Regions from separate parts of the Homo sapiens genome. Here region 2 is linked to region 1. Evidence: fine-mapped expression QTL. Tissue or cell type: whole blood. Region 1 holds a variant in brackets; the other region holds the start of a gene. All regions are shown on one strand. Distances are between the middles of the regions.

What was found. PIP is the estimated chance that this variant, and not a neighbour inherited with it, causes the effect.
Region 2: F13A1 starts here. The variant in region 1 is fine-mapped to the expression of F13A1 in whole blood (INTERVAL, PIP 0.99).

What each region holds. Positions count from the first base shown.
Region 1 is chr6:6,143,987-6,152,246 of GRCh38, reverse strand. F13A1 (coagulation factor XIII A chain) reads left to right here. Exons shown (of 15, transcript NM_000129.4): 14 at 298-434; 15 at 6,475-8,163. The coding sequence ends at 6,628. Among named protein-coding and RNA genes, the nearest start is that of MIR5683, 21 kb to the left of the region's middle. The variant A/G (reference allele first, on the strand shown) is at 4,575.
Region 2 is chr6:6,317,627-6,325,626 of GRCh38, reverse strand. F13A1 (coagulation factor XIII A chain) reads left to right here and starts at 4,965. Exons shown (of 15, transcript NM_000129.4): 1 at 4,965-5,040; 2 at 6,945-7,092. The coding sequence starts at 6,963. The region is part of intron 1 of LOC124901253 (a long non-coding RNA gene); the gene reads right to left.

The DNA of each region.
Region 1 (8,260 bases):
CAAATGAACTTCCCCCTCCTGCTGTCAAAGAGCAGTCAGTGGCCACCGCTATTGACCTGAGCTCTAATTAGGCTGGTTTTATAATGAGGAAAAGAGTGCGATTCTAATTAGTAAATTTCCATCTCTTTCTCAATAGGTATCCTCCAGTCAAAGCAATCAGCTATCCTCATCACACTGGTTCCATTGCCAAAAAAATAACTGTATCATAAAACTCTAGTAAAAGTGATGATGGTTAAGACAACAAGAGAGCAGAACGAGGTTTTATTTGGTGCTAATGACCTGCATTCTCTCTCTTAGGTCCGTGGCACTCAGGTAGTTGGTTCTGACATGACTGTGACAGTTGAGTTTACCAATCCTTTAAAAGAAACCCTGCGAAATGTCTGGGTACACCTGGATGGTCCTGGAGTAACAAGACCAATGAAGAAGATGTTCCGGTAAACCTTGGGTTGGGGAGACCGGGCAGGCAGTGCAGGGCTGTGGGAAGCTTTCTCTGTGTGTGTCTTTTCCAAACATAGATCTGCTCCCCAGTGAAAATGTCTTGGAAGCTGCCTCCTCCTTGCCGACCATTTCTGTAGGGCGTGGAGTAAAACTAGGGTTGGTTTGACCAGCACTTTCATCATTTAATCCTTAAAGACACCCTACGATGTAGATACTGCTATTATCTCCCTTCTGTAGCTGAGGAATTTGAGGCTTTGAGAGGTTGACTGGTTACACAGGTTCAGTTACACAGTTTATGAAAACAGAGCCAAGATTCAGACTCAGGCTGGTGAATTCCAGAACCCAAGTTTGAACCACTTTGCTGTACTACCTACTCACGTATGGTCTCTTCTCATCTTTATTGAGCTCCTACCACGTGTCAGATATTATGCTGAGAGATACCCCCTTTTCATGGGTGCTTTGTCTCCAGCCTCACCTCACAGATTTTACCATCCCAATCAGTGTCTACAACTGTTGGATTCAGGTTTTTTTTTAGTTGAGCCTAAAGAGCTCTAGATGGTTCCCCATTCAGGGGACCAAAGACAACCCCAGGTTCTGTAATGATATGAATGAAACTCAGCCTCTTCCACACACAGGCCACTTCAAATTGTGCTTGACAGGTCTCAGTTTCTGTGACTTCTACTAACAAAGAGTGTGACCCAACAAGATAACCCATTCCATGGTCAGGTAGCTCTAACAGTAAGGAAACAGGTTTTTCTACCATTTGATCCTGCCAATGATCCTAATTCTGCCATCTGGACTGACAGAAAGTAAGGCCCATCTCTTTTCCATCTGATGGTTTGCAAATGTTTGCAAACAGCTGTCTCATCTTCCTTGAATCTTTTCTACCTGGGGACAAATATCTGTCCTGACTTTATTTCCCTCTCCTCTAACATGGTTTCAGCTCTCTCTCTCTCTCTCCCACACATTCCAATTTGTCACTACTCCTCTTAAAGTGTGACACCCAGAATGGATCCCAATCTTTGAGGTTTATTACTTTCATTTCTACCACAAATAAGTCCTTGTCAGCATCAATCAATCTAGCACATTTCCTGTGGAGTGACCTTCTAAGGCATAGAAAGGGAGGTAGAGGACTTTGGAAACTGCCTCATGACCAGATATGTCAAGAATTTTCCCGACACCCTTTATGGAAGCGACCCCACTCTGGAATCTGTGGGATAAATGCAAGGCCTCACTTATACCCTCTGGGGCAACTTTATTGCCCATAAAGGGCTCTCCGCATTTCTTTCAAATTACAATGCTCGTAGCTTCTGCATCTCATCATTTAAGAGATGCCTTATTGCAGATGCAATAAACAACAGAGAAAATAATCTTAGTGCTTTTGAAACAACGCAAGCACAAAACATAGCAACCTTCCTGTGCTAACAGGAAAGTTACAGGAAAAAAAAATAAGTAAATTAGTAATCAACCCCAGCTACATAGAGAGGTCAGCAGCCATACCCCTGCTTTCGTCAGAAACGACAGTCTCACTCACCCATTCTCGCACCTTCCCACTCAAATCAGATGCAAGAATCGTTCAGGCAAAGTGAAACACGTTTCCTCTTCCATACAGCCCCCTGCTGTATCCAACTTTTTCCTTCCCAGACAGTAAACCCACAAGCTTTATCTGAGTGTACCGGAAACTTCTCTATCTTTACACCTTGGCTATCCCCCTAGAATTCCACCTTGGTCAAGGCCAACACATGAAAAAAGACACTGTGTGTCTTAGACAAAAGATGAATTATTACACAGTGAATTATTACACAGTGCAATGACCCACTATTTGGGAGGCCTCAGGCTCAAAATAGGTTAAATCTCCAGATGGTTTGTTTATTGTTAATGTCTGACATTGGAGTGGAGCAAAGTGGAGTGAATCGGGAGAAAGGATGGATAAGGCCAGTCCCTTCTTGGACACAGATGTCCTGCCCACACACTGGCTTAAGGTACTGTTAGTAGTTACTGCAACACGTAAGTCTAGGCAGACAAGTAGATAGACAGAGAGCTAGCTGCTCTTAGTCAGTTTGAGCTGCTGTAACAGAAATGCCATAGACTGGGTGGCTTATACAACAAACATTTATATCTCACACTTCTGGAGTCTGGGAAGTCTGAGGACAAGGTGCCGACCAATTCGGTTCCTGATGAGGGCTCCCTTCCCAGCTTGCAGATGGCTGTCTTTTCACTGTGTCCTCACATGGGGCAGAGAGAGGGAGGGCAAGTTCTCTGGCACCTCTTCTTCGAAGGGCACTAATCCCATCATGAGCCCCACCCTCATGACCTATTCTAATTTAGTTACCTCCCCAAAGCTCCATCGCTAAATGGTATCACACTGGAGTTTGGGTTTCAACAAATGAATGTGTGAGGACCACAAACATTTAGTCCGTAACAGTCCTCAATCTCTCTTTTTAAGTTTTTTTTACTGACACATTGTAATTCTACATATTTATGTGGGGCAATTTGATGTTTCGATACATATATATGTTGTATAATGATCAAATCGGAGTATTTAGTGTATCCATCACCCCATGCATTTATCATTTCTTTGTGGTGAGAACATTCAAAAGCCTGTCTTCTAGCTCTTTTGTAATATACAATACCTACTGTTAATCATAGTTACCTTATCATGCAATAGAACACCAGAACTTATTCCTCCTATTTAATTGTCACTTTGTTCTCATTGGCCAACCTCTTCCCATCTTCCCCTTCATGTTCTCCTCCTCAGTCTCTGGTAACCACTGTTCTGCTCTTTGCTTCTATGGTATAATAATTTTTTTTTTTTTAGTGTCTACATGTGAGTGAAATCATGTAGTATTTGTCTTTCCATGTCTGGTTTATTTCACTTACCATGATGCCCTTCCTCCAAGTCTAATTCATGTTGTTACAAATGGCAGGATTTTATTCTTTTTATGGCTGAATAGTTACAGAAACCCAGCTTCAGGGTGGAATATCTCCCAGACAAGAGAAGCTTTATTTCTCAGAGACAGTCAAAACTTGGGCTAAAAATCATGACATAGAAAACATTTGTTATCTAAGATGGGCTTACAACTTGGAGCAAGTGCCACTTTCTCTGTTTACTCCTCACTCCAGCACACACCTTCACAACCAAGACCTGAGCCAGTCCGTGCCCACTTCCATATGGTCAGATAATTAGAAGCACTCCACTGTGCCCTATGTTGCCAAGATCTGATCTAGGAGCGCCAGATCCATGTAACAACTTGGACGCCTAGAAAGTGCAATTCCACAAAACCAAAATCCTTTGCAAGACCGTATTTCTTTCTAGAATACAGCTCTTAAATAGTTGGGGAATCACCACCCCCACTCATTCACCCACACCCTGCCAGATGTGGTGTCTAGAAGGCAGGGGTTATTGAACCCAAAGCAGAGGGCCTGGAAGGTGAGGAGCTGGTAAACAGGGAATTGGAGCCAGGAACAAAGAAGGCGGTGCTGTGTCTCACCCCTCACTCGCAGTGAGCCAACTCTACTCTGAAATGGTTTATCTTCCTGCTCTTCCCCCACTGCCTCCGGCCTGTCTCAGATGTGCAGAGGTTCCACCTCCACAGACTCTTAACTTTCTGCACTTGATGCTTCCAGAGCGTCAAATAATTTATCTTCCAGATTTATTTTGCTCTTTAGAAAATGATCCAGTTCAATATGTTATTTCAAGAGAAAAACTCCCCCACTTTGTGATTTGGGCTTAAACTTTAAGTTTCTCAAATAGGACAGAAGCTAAGGTCTAGAAGCACAGAGGACAAACCATGGGCAGTTGCAGTTTATTGTAATAATAATCTTATTTGCCTGCGTGCATTCAAGATGATAAATGGCCGGTATCTCCTGATGGCTCAGCACGTTACTGAGAATCGTTTATCACAACATCCATCCCCAGAAAATAGGATTACTCCAACATTGCTCCACTTATCAAAATACTTTTTTCTCTGTTATGAATTTATCTGTATGTAAAATAGCATGCATACGTATCTTCATGTATGAGTATTTTCATGTATGAGTTTTTTCGTATGTACACATCATTATGCCGGATGGTTTTATGAGTAAGAGAAAATGATAAGAGGGGGCTAAATACTTAGCTTCTATTTGAGGTGGTT[A/G]TCTACAGTACATGGTCTCAGGTCGGGTCCTTAACCAGGGCCACTGTTTCACAAAGTGCTTCTGATTGATCACTTGGGGGAACCAGAGGAGAGAGAATGAATGGATACAGGTAACAATAGCACAGCTGTTGAGAAATAAATATCCCAAACTTATATTGGTATTGAATTGAGCACTGAGAATTTTCTCTCTGCATACAGGCAGGAGAAACTTTCCTAAATTATCTTGCAAAGAGTTCAATGAATCCTCCATGAACACTTCCAGGACACTCTTATTACTAAGTCAAAAAGTATCTTTCCTGCTTGAGAAATAAAACCTATGAAAAAGTAAGCACAATGGTCAGAAAAAGCCTTTTCTTCTTTTCTTTTTTTATTTCTATAGGTTTTTGGGGAACAGTTGGTGTTTGGTTACATGAATAAGTTCTTTGGTGGTGGTTTCTGAGACATTTGGTCACCCATCACCTAAGCAGTATATACTGTAACCATTTTGTAGTCTTTTATCCCTCCCACCTTTCCCCTGAGTCCCCAAAGACCATTGCGTCATTGTTCATTGTTATGCCTTTGCATCCTCATAGCTTAGCTCCAGCTTATGAGTGAGAACATAGGATGTTTGGTTTTCCATTCCTGAGTTACTTCACTTAGAATACTGGTCTCCAGTTTCATCTAGGTCACTGTGAATTCCATTGTTTCATTCCTTTTTATGGCTGAGTAGTATTCCATGGTATATGCATACCACAATTTCTTTATTCACTCATTGATGGGCATTTGGGCTGGTTCCATATTTTTGCAATTGCACACTGTGCTGCTATAAATATGTGTGTGCAAATATCTTAGAAAAAGCCTTTTCTTATAGAACATATGGTGTACACTTTTATGAAGTGCAGTGAAGAGGAGCAGAAAGAGTATGAATATGGGACTCAGAAAAACCCGGGTTCAAATTTCATCTCTGCCCATTTACCAATTATGTGATCTTGAAAAAGGGACTTCACTGGTTACCTTCCATTTTTCTTGATCATAAAATCTGCTGAATAGTATCTGCCTCAAAGAACTGTCATACATATAAAACCTGAATATAATCTCCCAAGGTTTATAGGGGAGGCTATATGTGAAGCACCCCAGAGAACACTAAATCTCACCAACCCTGATTAGTCTCAGTCTGCACTGATGTGGGCTTGTTCGTGACACTCAGGAAGACTTCAGGGCAAAGGCTGGGAGGAAGAGGAGAACACTAGAACCATGAAAGGCTATGTCATTAGCCGCATACATTAGGGCATTGGCAACAAATGGTAGCAGAAAGTTGCATAGGTGGAGGGGCCCAATTTGGTGGTTGAAATAGGAATTTGAATTACAGAACATGAAGATTCTCAAAGTCAAATGGCAGCAGGCAGGGCTATATTCCAGATGCTGAGCCTGGGAACAAGGTCTATCCCAAGGGAGTTGGCAAAAGCTAATTCGAGTGTCAGGGCCTCAGCAAAGGCAGCTGGGGGATTCATATAGGACTGTAATTCCAGGAGGAAACTAGTGGCAAAAACTGAGCTGAGGCTCAGAAGATCAGTCACATAGATAAGGCTACTATGGAGGGCTTGGAGACAAGCTAGAGTTCAGTTGATTAATGGTTGGATGGGAATCAGCCCAGCTCCTGATGGCCACTGGGAGGCTGGCGGATGCATCCCAGTGGAAGGAACCATGACCCAATAAGACTGTCAGTGACAGGTTCTGCAGAGCTTTATGTGGGGGCCTCATTTGGGGCATAACTTGCTGAATCAGCCAGTGAGAGTCTTCAGTGTCCTAAGCACCAACTGAGAGAAAGAAAGCAAGTGACTTAGGCAAGAGTTTTCATTGCTTCCTGATCAAAGTGGAAAGCTGGATCTTCCAACCTCTCCTCTCTTTTCCATCCTTTCAGTGAAATCCGGCCCAACTCCACCGTGCAGTGGGAAGAAGTGTGCCGGCCCTGGGTCTCTGGGCATCGGAAGCTGATAGCCAGCATGAGCAGTGACTCCCTGAGACATGTGTATGGCGAGCTGGACGTGCAGATTCAAAGACGACCTTCCATGTGAATGCACAGGAAGCTGAGATGAACCCTGGCATTTGGCCTCTTGTAGTCTTGGCTAAGGAAATTCTAACGCAAAAATAGCTCTTGCTTTGACTTAGGTGTGAAGACCCAGACAGGACTGCAGAGGGCTCCAGAGTGGAGATCCCACATATTTCAAAAACATGCTTTTCCAAACCCAGGCTATTCGGCAAGGAAGTTAGTTTTTAATCTCTCCACCTTCCAAAGAGTGCTAAGCATTAGCTTTAATTAAGCTCTCATAGCTCATAAGAGTAACAGTCATCATTTATCATCACAAATGGCTACATCTCCAAATATCAGTGGGCTCTCTTACCAGGGAGATTTGCTCAATACCTGGCCTCATTTAAAACAAGACTTCAGATTCCCCACTCAGCCTTTTGGGAATAATAGCACATGATTTGGGCTCTAGAATTCCAGTCCCCTTTCTCGGGGTCAGGTTCTACCCTCCATGTGAGAATATTTTTCCCAGGACTAGAGCACAACATAATTTTTATTTTTGGCAAAGCCAGAAAAAGATCTTTCATTTTGCACCTGCAGCCAAGCAAATGCCTGCCAAATTTTAGATTTACCTTGTTAGAAGAGGTGGCCCCATATTAACAAATTGCATTTGTGGGAAACTTAACCACCTACAAGGAGATAAGAAAGCAGGTGCAACACTCAAGTCTATTGAATAATGTAGTTTTGTGATGCATTTTATAGAATGTGTCACACTGTGGCCTGATCAGCAGGAGCCAATATCCCTTACTTTAACCCTTTCTGGGATGCAATACTAGGAAGTAAAGTGAAGAATTTATCTCTTTAGTTAGTGATTATATTTCACCCATCTCTCAGGAATCATCTCCTTTGCAGAATGATGCAGGTTCAGGTCCCCTTTCAGAGATATAATAAGCCCAACAAGTTGAAGAAGCTGGCGGATCTAGTGACCAGATATATAGAAGGACTGCAGCCACTGATTCTCTCTTGTCCTTCACATCACCCATGTTGAGACCTCAGCTTGGCACTCAGGTGCTGAAGGGTAATATGGACTCAGCCTTGCAAATAGCCAGTGCTAGTTCTGACCCAACCACAGAGGATGCTGACATCATTTGTATTATGTTCCAAGGCTACTACAGAGAAGGCTGCCTGCTATGTATTTGCAAGGCTGATTTATGGTCAGAATTTCCCTCTGATATGTCTAGGGTGTGATTTAGGTCAGTAGACTGTGATTCTTAGCAAAAAATGAACAGTGATAAGTATACTGGGGGCAAAATCAGAATGGAATGCTCTGGTCTATATAACCACATTTCTAAGCCTTTGAGACTGTTCCTGAGCCTTCAGCACTAACCTATGAGGGTGAGCTGGTCCCCTCTATATATACATCATACTTAACTTTACTAAGTAATCTCACAGCATTTGCCAAGTCTCCCAATATCCAATTTTAAAATGAAATGCATTTTGCTAGACAGTTAAACTGGCTTAACTTAGTATATTATTATTAATTACAATGTAATAGAAGCTTAAAATAAAGTTAAACTGATTATATTTGCATCTGTGCAGAAGTGAATGCTTTTAATTTTCAATATAACACACTACTAATCACAACTTCTTGAGAAACCATCCTTCCTCCGCAGTAGACAAC
Region 2 (8,000 bases), 170 kb before region 1:
GGAATTACATCTATAACCAACAAAATCCAGGTCTTGTTCAGCTGGAAAAAACCAGCAGCGTCCAGACATGACTGGGTTTTTTGTTTGTTTGTTTGAGATGTGAAGTTTTGCATGTAAATCAAATAGAGTTTGCCAGAAAATTCATTGCCTGAACAAATATGGTCTGCTCCTTGGGTATTGCCAAGTAGGAGAAAGATGGTTTGTCTGGAGAGACTGCAGAGAAAAGTGTCAATACCATAGAAATGAAAACTCAGAATTAAAGGATCAAGGTAAGGGGATCCGGAATCCCTCCTCCCACGTATTTTCTGTTTACTCACAACTCCCAAAGTTTACTACATATTTCTGAGAGACGCCAGGATCCCAGAGTGATGTGTTTAGGAATTTTTACCCTGCTTCTTGGGGAGGCAATGGGGTGAGCCCTTCAGCTTCAGAAGAGTGAGAAGGTATGCCCAGGCCCGTGCAGCCAGAGGGAGTTCACGTCTCCTTGGAGGTCTCATGCTGAGCTGGTAAGGCCAAGAAAGTAGGGGCAGAACTGGATTACCCTTGTGACGTTCTCATTGGAGTCTCCTCGTGCTCCAGGCCTATTGACATCTCATGTGAGGGACTGGCCATGCCATGATGAAAGAGCACAGTGTGTTGTGGCAGTCCTGGAACTGTTTGCCCAGAGAGCCTTTCCTCACCCTTTCCCTGTATGGATGCAGTAAAGAGTTAACATAGCAAACCTGAAACTGGCTTAGAAAGCCCTACTTGCAAGCTTGGCCCTTGTCTGGCATCTGGGAACTTGGACTTCAGGAGTCTTCCCACTGTTCCCTAACTGACAAGTGGGGCTGGCTGGGCCTAAACTGTACAAAAATTGTGGCTCATGCTTAACACCTGCTTCCTTCAGGGAGTCTGGAAAATGGCTATGAGCTAGGTAGAGGGTACCTATGTGACCAGCCCCCCATAAACACCCTGAGCACTGAGCCTCTGGTGAGCATCCCTGGCAGATGACATTATATCAGTGTTGTCACAACTCATTGCCAGGGTTGGTAGGCACAGCCCATGTGCCTTGATTAGGACAGGACCTTTGGGAACTTCTGCCTGGTCCTCCAGACTTTGCCCAAGTGCCTTTTCTCTGCTGATTTGGATTTGTATCTTTTCGTCATGATTTATCGTGTAGTATATATGATATATGTACATTTGTATCTGATCATAGCTACGTGGGTGGCCGAGTCTGGTGAGTCCTCCTAGTGAATCACAGAACCTGGGGGTAGCCTTGGGGCCCCAGCACAGGAGTGGTGGGGCTAACTTTGCAGGCGGTATTTTCCAGAGTCCTTTGTCAACTGATTCTAGTGGAGTTCAGCAAAACGGCAGACAAGGGAGGGAGAGGGAGCGGGAAGAAAGGGACAAGCTAGGATCATTCTTCCCTCCCTCTTGACCTCAGACAGTGTTTCTTGGAATTATGGGATCTAAAGCTCCCACCAGACAGGACCACACGGTTCCAGTGCCTGACCTACCCTCAGTCCTCCCGCTACAACGACACCAACTCCTCTCTGCTGTTGCTAATTGTGGAGTTGATTCACCTTCTCGTGTTTGGTTTCTTGTCTCTTCTCTCACCTGTGTAACCAATCCCCTGCCTTAAATTCCTTCTTTTAGAAAGACCTAAAGTGGTTTTTGTTTTCCTGGATGAACCCCGTCTGTTACATGCCTTAAATATTTACATGGCTCCACTTCCATGCCAGGCAGGGGGCATTCAGAAATAAAAGACACCATCCCATCCTTAAGGACCTCAGAGCCTATGCACCTGTGGAAGTTGCATCCCTAGCACAGTTCAAGATTCACTGTGTGACCAGAAACCTTTGTTCTGATGTCTCAGCCATATAACCATGAGGAATACCCTGTAAAATGAATGGGCTTCAACCGCATTCTAGGGCTTGGTGGCTTAGACACATTTTTATCGACTTTGTTTAGCACAAGGAAAGCCATTGCATTTATGATGCTCTTGAGGTTAGTGGTTTGGGGGAGTCAGAAAGCCAACCACTGTGTGTGTATGTTCACAAAGCCAATAATTAGTCTAAGGCCAAAAGTGACACCGTGGAGGTGGTTGTGAGGGTGACAATCCTGTTCTGAATGCACAACTCAACCCCAAGTCCCAGGGGTACCTGGCATCTGCGTAACCTCATCTGAAGGGTGCAAGGGTGGCTGCTCATCCTCCAACCCCACATGGATGAGGGTATCTTGGAATTCTAGACACTCAGATTTGATGTTTGCCAGGAGAACTACCAGAATATGATCGTTAAGGATTGGGGGAGGGTTTAAAAATACTGAGGAGACCTGAAATTGTATGAATGCTGAGGGGAAGCAGTGCTAGACATCTTTAGGGTCTTTCTCTAGCACTCAGCAAGGGATGTGGCAAAGACGGCCTTTGGATAGTTAAGTGGTCAGCAGCCTCTCTCCAGGGAACTCTGGCTGGAGTCCCTACCTTTTTGTACTCTAGTGCAGGTACAGCCAAGGAAACAGAAAATGATCATGCAGTGTGAGGAGCACTACAACAAGGCAAACTCCTTGCAAGACAACTGGGGAGTCAGTGGAGGGAGACTGGGCAGGGAAGAAAGATGGCAGAGGAAGATGATAGGGAAGAAAGATGGAAGCCAAATGGCAGAAGCTTAGTGATGAAGAGGAGGAGAGGAGAAACAACAGTGGAAGGCAGGGAGGGTAGATTGGTGTTGGGGGAAGGTTTTTTAAAAATACTGGAGACCTCAAATTGTATGGATGCTGAGGGAAAGAGCAGTGCTAGAGGCAGGGTCCAGCTTGTATAGGCCTTGTCAGTTTCAGCTTGCAATTTATCCAAAAAGCAAAGAGAAGTAGCCATATAAGGGCTTTGTGCAAATAATTTGATTTCGGATTTTAGCCCTGAAATGCTCATTCTGACTGCACTGTAGAGAATGGACTGGAAAGGGGTACATACACGGGTAGATTCAAGGGCTGTTTAAGAGGTAGGATAGAAAATATTTGCTCAAGGATCGGATTTGATGATTGAGGGAGAGAAACAAGGAAGCCTCAAGAATGATGCCCATGTGTCTGGTGTACCACCTGCGTGCAAAGTGATGGTATTCATTGAGGTAGGGAACTCCTGAGATGCACCAGGTTTTCCAGGAAAGTGATACATCTCATGTTAGACATGATGAGCGTGTGTTGTCACTGGGATGTGACAAATGAGGATAGCCAGTAGGCACTTAGATACGGGAATCTGCAATTCTGGAAAAGATCTTGGCTAAAGACCCAGATTTGGGAGGTGTCAGGATATAGATGGAATTTGAAAACTATGGGAGTTCCTCAGACAATCAAGGAATATTGCGCTGCACTGGAGGAAACCACAGAGTGTTCAATGTCAAGGAGGCCTAGGAAAAATACCTTCAAAGACAGAGTTCAATGCTTCCAAAAGGTCAGGTAAATAAGAACTGAATCCTGTCTTTTGGCCTGAGCACAGGCCTTGGAGACCGTGACCTCCACTTTCAGTAGAATGATGAGGCGGAAGCCAGATGGCAGATACTTAGTGATGAAGGGGAGGAGAGGAGGAGTAACAGCAGGAGTGGGGACATAGGTTGGGGGAGGTTTTTAAAAAAATACTGAAGAGACCTGAAATTGCATGAATGCTGAGAAGACCCACTATTAGCAAGCAGGAGCTTGAAGCTGCAAGAGGAAGAGTACGTAAGAGTCACAGCAAAGCCCCGGAGAACAAGGCAACGCAGAAGCCTGGTTTGGAGATGCAGAGGGAGGAGGGACCTTTCCAACTTCAGTAACAAGAAGAAAGAGGAAAAGATAGATAAGGTTGCAGGCAGGTTCATAGATTGGTAGCAGAAAATTGAGAGAATTTCTAACCAATGGCATCTTTTTTTTTCTTCTTTATAACATTGGGAGATTGAGTGGCAGGGTCAGAAATTTGAAGACAGTAAAGAAGGTTAGAAATAGCCATGTTTGACTGGGTGCGGTGGCTCACGCCTGTAATCCCAACACTTTGGGAAGCCAAGGAGGGTGGATCACCTGAGGTCAGAAGTTCGAGACCAGCCTGGCCAACATGGTAAAGCCCCATCTCTACTAAAAATACAAAAATTAGGCGGGCATGGTGGCATGCACCTGTAGTTCCAGCTACTTGGGAGGCTGAGGCAGAAGAATCACTTGAACCCGGGAGGTGGAGGTTGCACTCCAGCCTTTGCAACAGAGCAAGACTTCATCTGAAAGATAGAAAGATGAAAGAAAGAAAGAAAGAAAGAGTAAAAGAAAAAAATTAAAATTTTAGGGGGAAAATTTTCTAATTTTTGAACATGCACTAAAATGATTTTCAGAGAAAACCAAGTGTTATTTTCTAATCTGCATGGCATTATTAAAGATGTTTACTCATCTTCCTTGGGGCTAGGCATCCCATTCCTGCAGGAAGTCTTGTGGTTAGGCGGTGGCTGTGGCTCTGGGATGATTCAGGAATGCAGACCATGCCTTATTTGCACAGGAGGGACACGTTGCTCTCACTGCATGCATGGTCACAACTGTCTGTGTGACCTGTCTGTGGGAGGGCAGACCCCCCTCCTGCCAAGCCACAGTAGCAGCTGACCTGCCAGGCAAAAGCATTCCTTTGTAAAGGAAACCCTCCCAGACCCTCTGACCAAAGGGGACGGGTGGGGACTTCCTGGCACTGCAGGGCCCCTTGCCTGGTACTCCCAGCAACTGGTTGCGGTGGGGAGGGCAGATCTAGGGATGGGGATGGGGAGGAGAAGTGGGAATGGGAAATTGGGAGTCAGAGGGGCAAGTGGGAGAGAAGGGCGCACCTGCCGGGATAACAGGCCAGATGAAGTAAATAGAAAATCCTCTGAGCTCCCCTACTGGCTCCAGCTGTGGAGAAGGGGGAGGAGAAAACCCTGTGGGACAGGGGAGGAGGGTGAGGGCTCCTCTTAGGAAGTTATTTAAGAGCCAACTGTCTTGTCTTTCCCGAGTCCGTTTGAGGAAGTCCCCGAGGCGCACAGAGCAAGCCCACGCGAGGGCACCTCTGGAGGGGAGCGCCTGCAGGTAAGCCACCGACCCTGCACCCTATGAGCCAGGGCCCGCTGCGTCCACCTTCTGCACCTCGGTTTCCTGGTTGAACCAGCAAGCGGCTTGCTCTGGGCCCTGTGGCGCCGGTCACAGGCAGCTCCACTTGCCCAATCCTGGCTTCCCGCCCCCAACTCCGCACCTGCCCAGCCCAGCTTCTAAGCGGGACTTCTCTCAGGCTCTCGAGGCAGCTCTCCCGAAGCCGTTGCTTGCTTAGAATGCCACCAAATGGGGATGGGGGAGTTGGAGGTGCTTCCCCAAGGGACGAGCCCCCTTTCCTCAGGGAGCAGATTATGGAGCTGGAACACAAAAGGTGGAGGGAGTGGGGCCAAGTGAGAACAGCCTGCTAGACTGGAACCCCGCCGGCTTGGCTCCCCACTCCTGCGCGCCTCCCCACTCCTGCGCATCGCCTGCCTCCGTCCCAATTTGGAGCTGAACTCGAGCCACTTCTCCTCCTTAGACCCGCCCAGAAGCGAGGGCTCCTGCCCGCCGCACTCACCCAGCCAGGCGTGCACCTGGGGCTCCCCCCTTCTCCCCCTTAGCACTGTGTCTCCCGACAGCGCGCCACACTGTTCTGCACCCCTGGCAATGCCGCAGCCTACCTTCGGTATTTCTCACTAGAGGATGGCTCTCGCAGCCTTCTCCCTATCATTAACCCTTTTTCGCTCTTCTCCCTCCCTTCCCCCGTCAGCTCACCAATGACTGTAAATATATTTATCTATACTTATGGATACCCATTCACACCTTATGCATCCAAACACTCCTGTCTCCTTCTCAGACCAGACACCTTAGGCGTGGTTGTCTTTTCTCCAGCATGTTGTTAGTGCTCCACATGTCTCTGGAACCATCTCTCTACTCTGGTGGCCTCTATAATGGGGACTCTTCACCTCTTGGGGGTGTGCCTGGTTTTTGAAAATAGCCAAGTCTCCAGGAGTCATGACTGGGTAATCCAGGGGATCAAGGGGGAACCTTCACTGGGCCCAGAAACAAAGTCCCCCTTCATTTGGTCATTTGGTCAACAAGTACTTACTGGGCACTGACCGTCAGGTGTGTGTTGTTTAAACTGGCTCAGTGCCTGCACAAGCTCCAAGGGAAGGGGAAGCAGGCTTGGGGAATGGGAAATGTTGGCAACCCTGACTTCTTAAGCCTATTGATAGCCCTATTGAAAATTGCATGCCCAACCTCTCCACCTCCTTATCCTCCTCCATGTGGCTCAATTTCCAAAGCAGTTCCTACCTCCTCACCCCTAAGTGGATTTACTTATGGCTCTTCTTGGGCTCCACCCTAACCCTATCAGACTATAATCTATCAGAGCAAACATTCTGTTTTGTTCTCTGATGTATCCCATGTACCTAGATCACAGCCTGGCATGTCATAGGCCCTCAATAAATATTGGTTGAATTAAATTGCAAATGTAAACGCTTTAGAAGACAACATTTGTCTGGACATGGTTGTGTGCGTTTATTCTTAAAAGTGACTTATAATCTCATAAATCTGTATGAAATGAACATAGATACAGCACATGCATATAACAGGAAACATTTCTTGCGAAGATGCTGCTGTAGGATTATGGAGGGTGGGGGAATCTGGGTCTCCAAAAATCTTTTAATTTTTAAATTTCTTTGAATAAGCCCCTTTTCTTCTGCTTTCCATATGTTTTGACACATACAAAAATCTCCCCAAGATCCTTGGGGAACTGTATTCCATCATTAGACTAATCCTTGCTGCCACTTCTCAGTTTTTATTTATGCAAACGGCAAAATGTGTTGCTCAAGTGCTATCACACACAGATATATCTGTTTCTCTATTTTGGAATCCTTGTCTCAAATGTTACTCACTTTACATGCCTTTTCTGTTGTCTTCTTTTTTTTTTTTTTCTGAAGGACCTTGTAAAGTCAAAAATGTCAGAAACTTCCAGGACCGCCTTTGGAGGCAGAAGAGCAGTTCCACCCAATAACTCTAATGCAGCGGAAGATGACCTGCCCACAGTGGAGCTTCAGGGCGTGGTGCCCCGGGGCGTCAACCTGCAAGGTATGAGCATACCCCCCTTCCCCACCACTCTGGGTCCAGGCACAGCCGGGCCCTGGCCCCTCTTCCCTGCAGGTAAACATCCTCTGTCTCCACTGGGGTTCCCACAAAAGGAAGCCCCCTGCCAATCTCTGGTTTTATAAAGGAAGAAAGCAAAAGCTTTCTTTTAAGTGGTGAAAGCACCGAAGACCCAGAGCCTTGTCCCAGTTCTGCCCCTTACTGACCTTGTAACCTCAGAGAAGTTGCTTTGTCTTTCTGCCTCTCAACTATTTCCTCTACAAAACCAGAGTGCTGGATTAGCTAGGGCCTCTTCCAGCCCTACTGCTCAATGCTTTAGAGAATTTTCTCTAGCTGGAATATTCCACTTCCAAAATATTGTGGCTGTTTTGATTGTCTGGCTTGCACCTCCTTCCTTCTCCCTCCTCCCTCCTCCATCCATTGCTGTGAATTTCAGAGCCGGGGAGAAGTGCCAGACTCTGACAGTAATAGAGATAGAAGCCCTCTATTTCTCTCCAGAGCAGCCTGGTGAGCTGGCAAGGCAAGCTGCTTCCCCAGCCTCTTGCCTCTGCCTGATCCCTAGAAACCTGTTCCGGGTACAGCAGCCGGCAGCTGACCTCCTCTCAGCCCTGTCAGTGGTGACAAGGTCCAGGTGCCAGCACTGGTTTGGTGATACAGACATCATTCCCCTGGGCCATGGCAGGGACATTCAGACTCATGTCCCCGAGTGGCATTGAGCAGGGAGTCTTTTTTGTCAATAACATTCATGCACCAAAATCTAATTTTACTCCTAAGGGTGTTCTGTGCTGGGTTTCACTGGGGATAAACACCTATTTGCTGGGATAGGTGAGCATGGTCATGCTGGAGCTGTGTGGTCGATTCCCCTCATTAGAAGGAGACCAATGCCTGAAAGC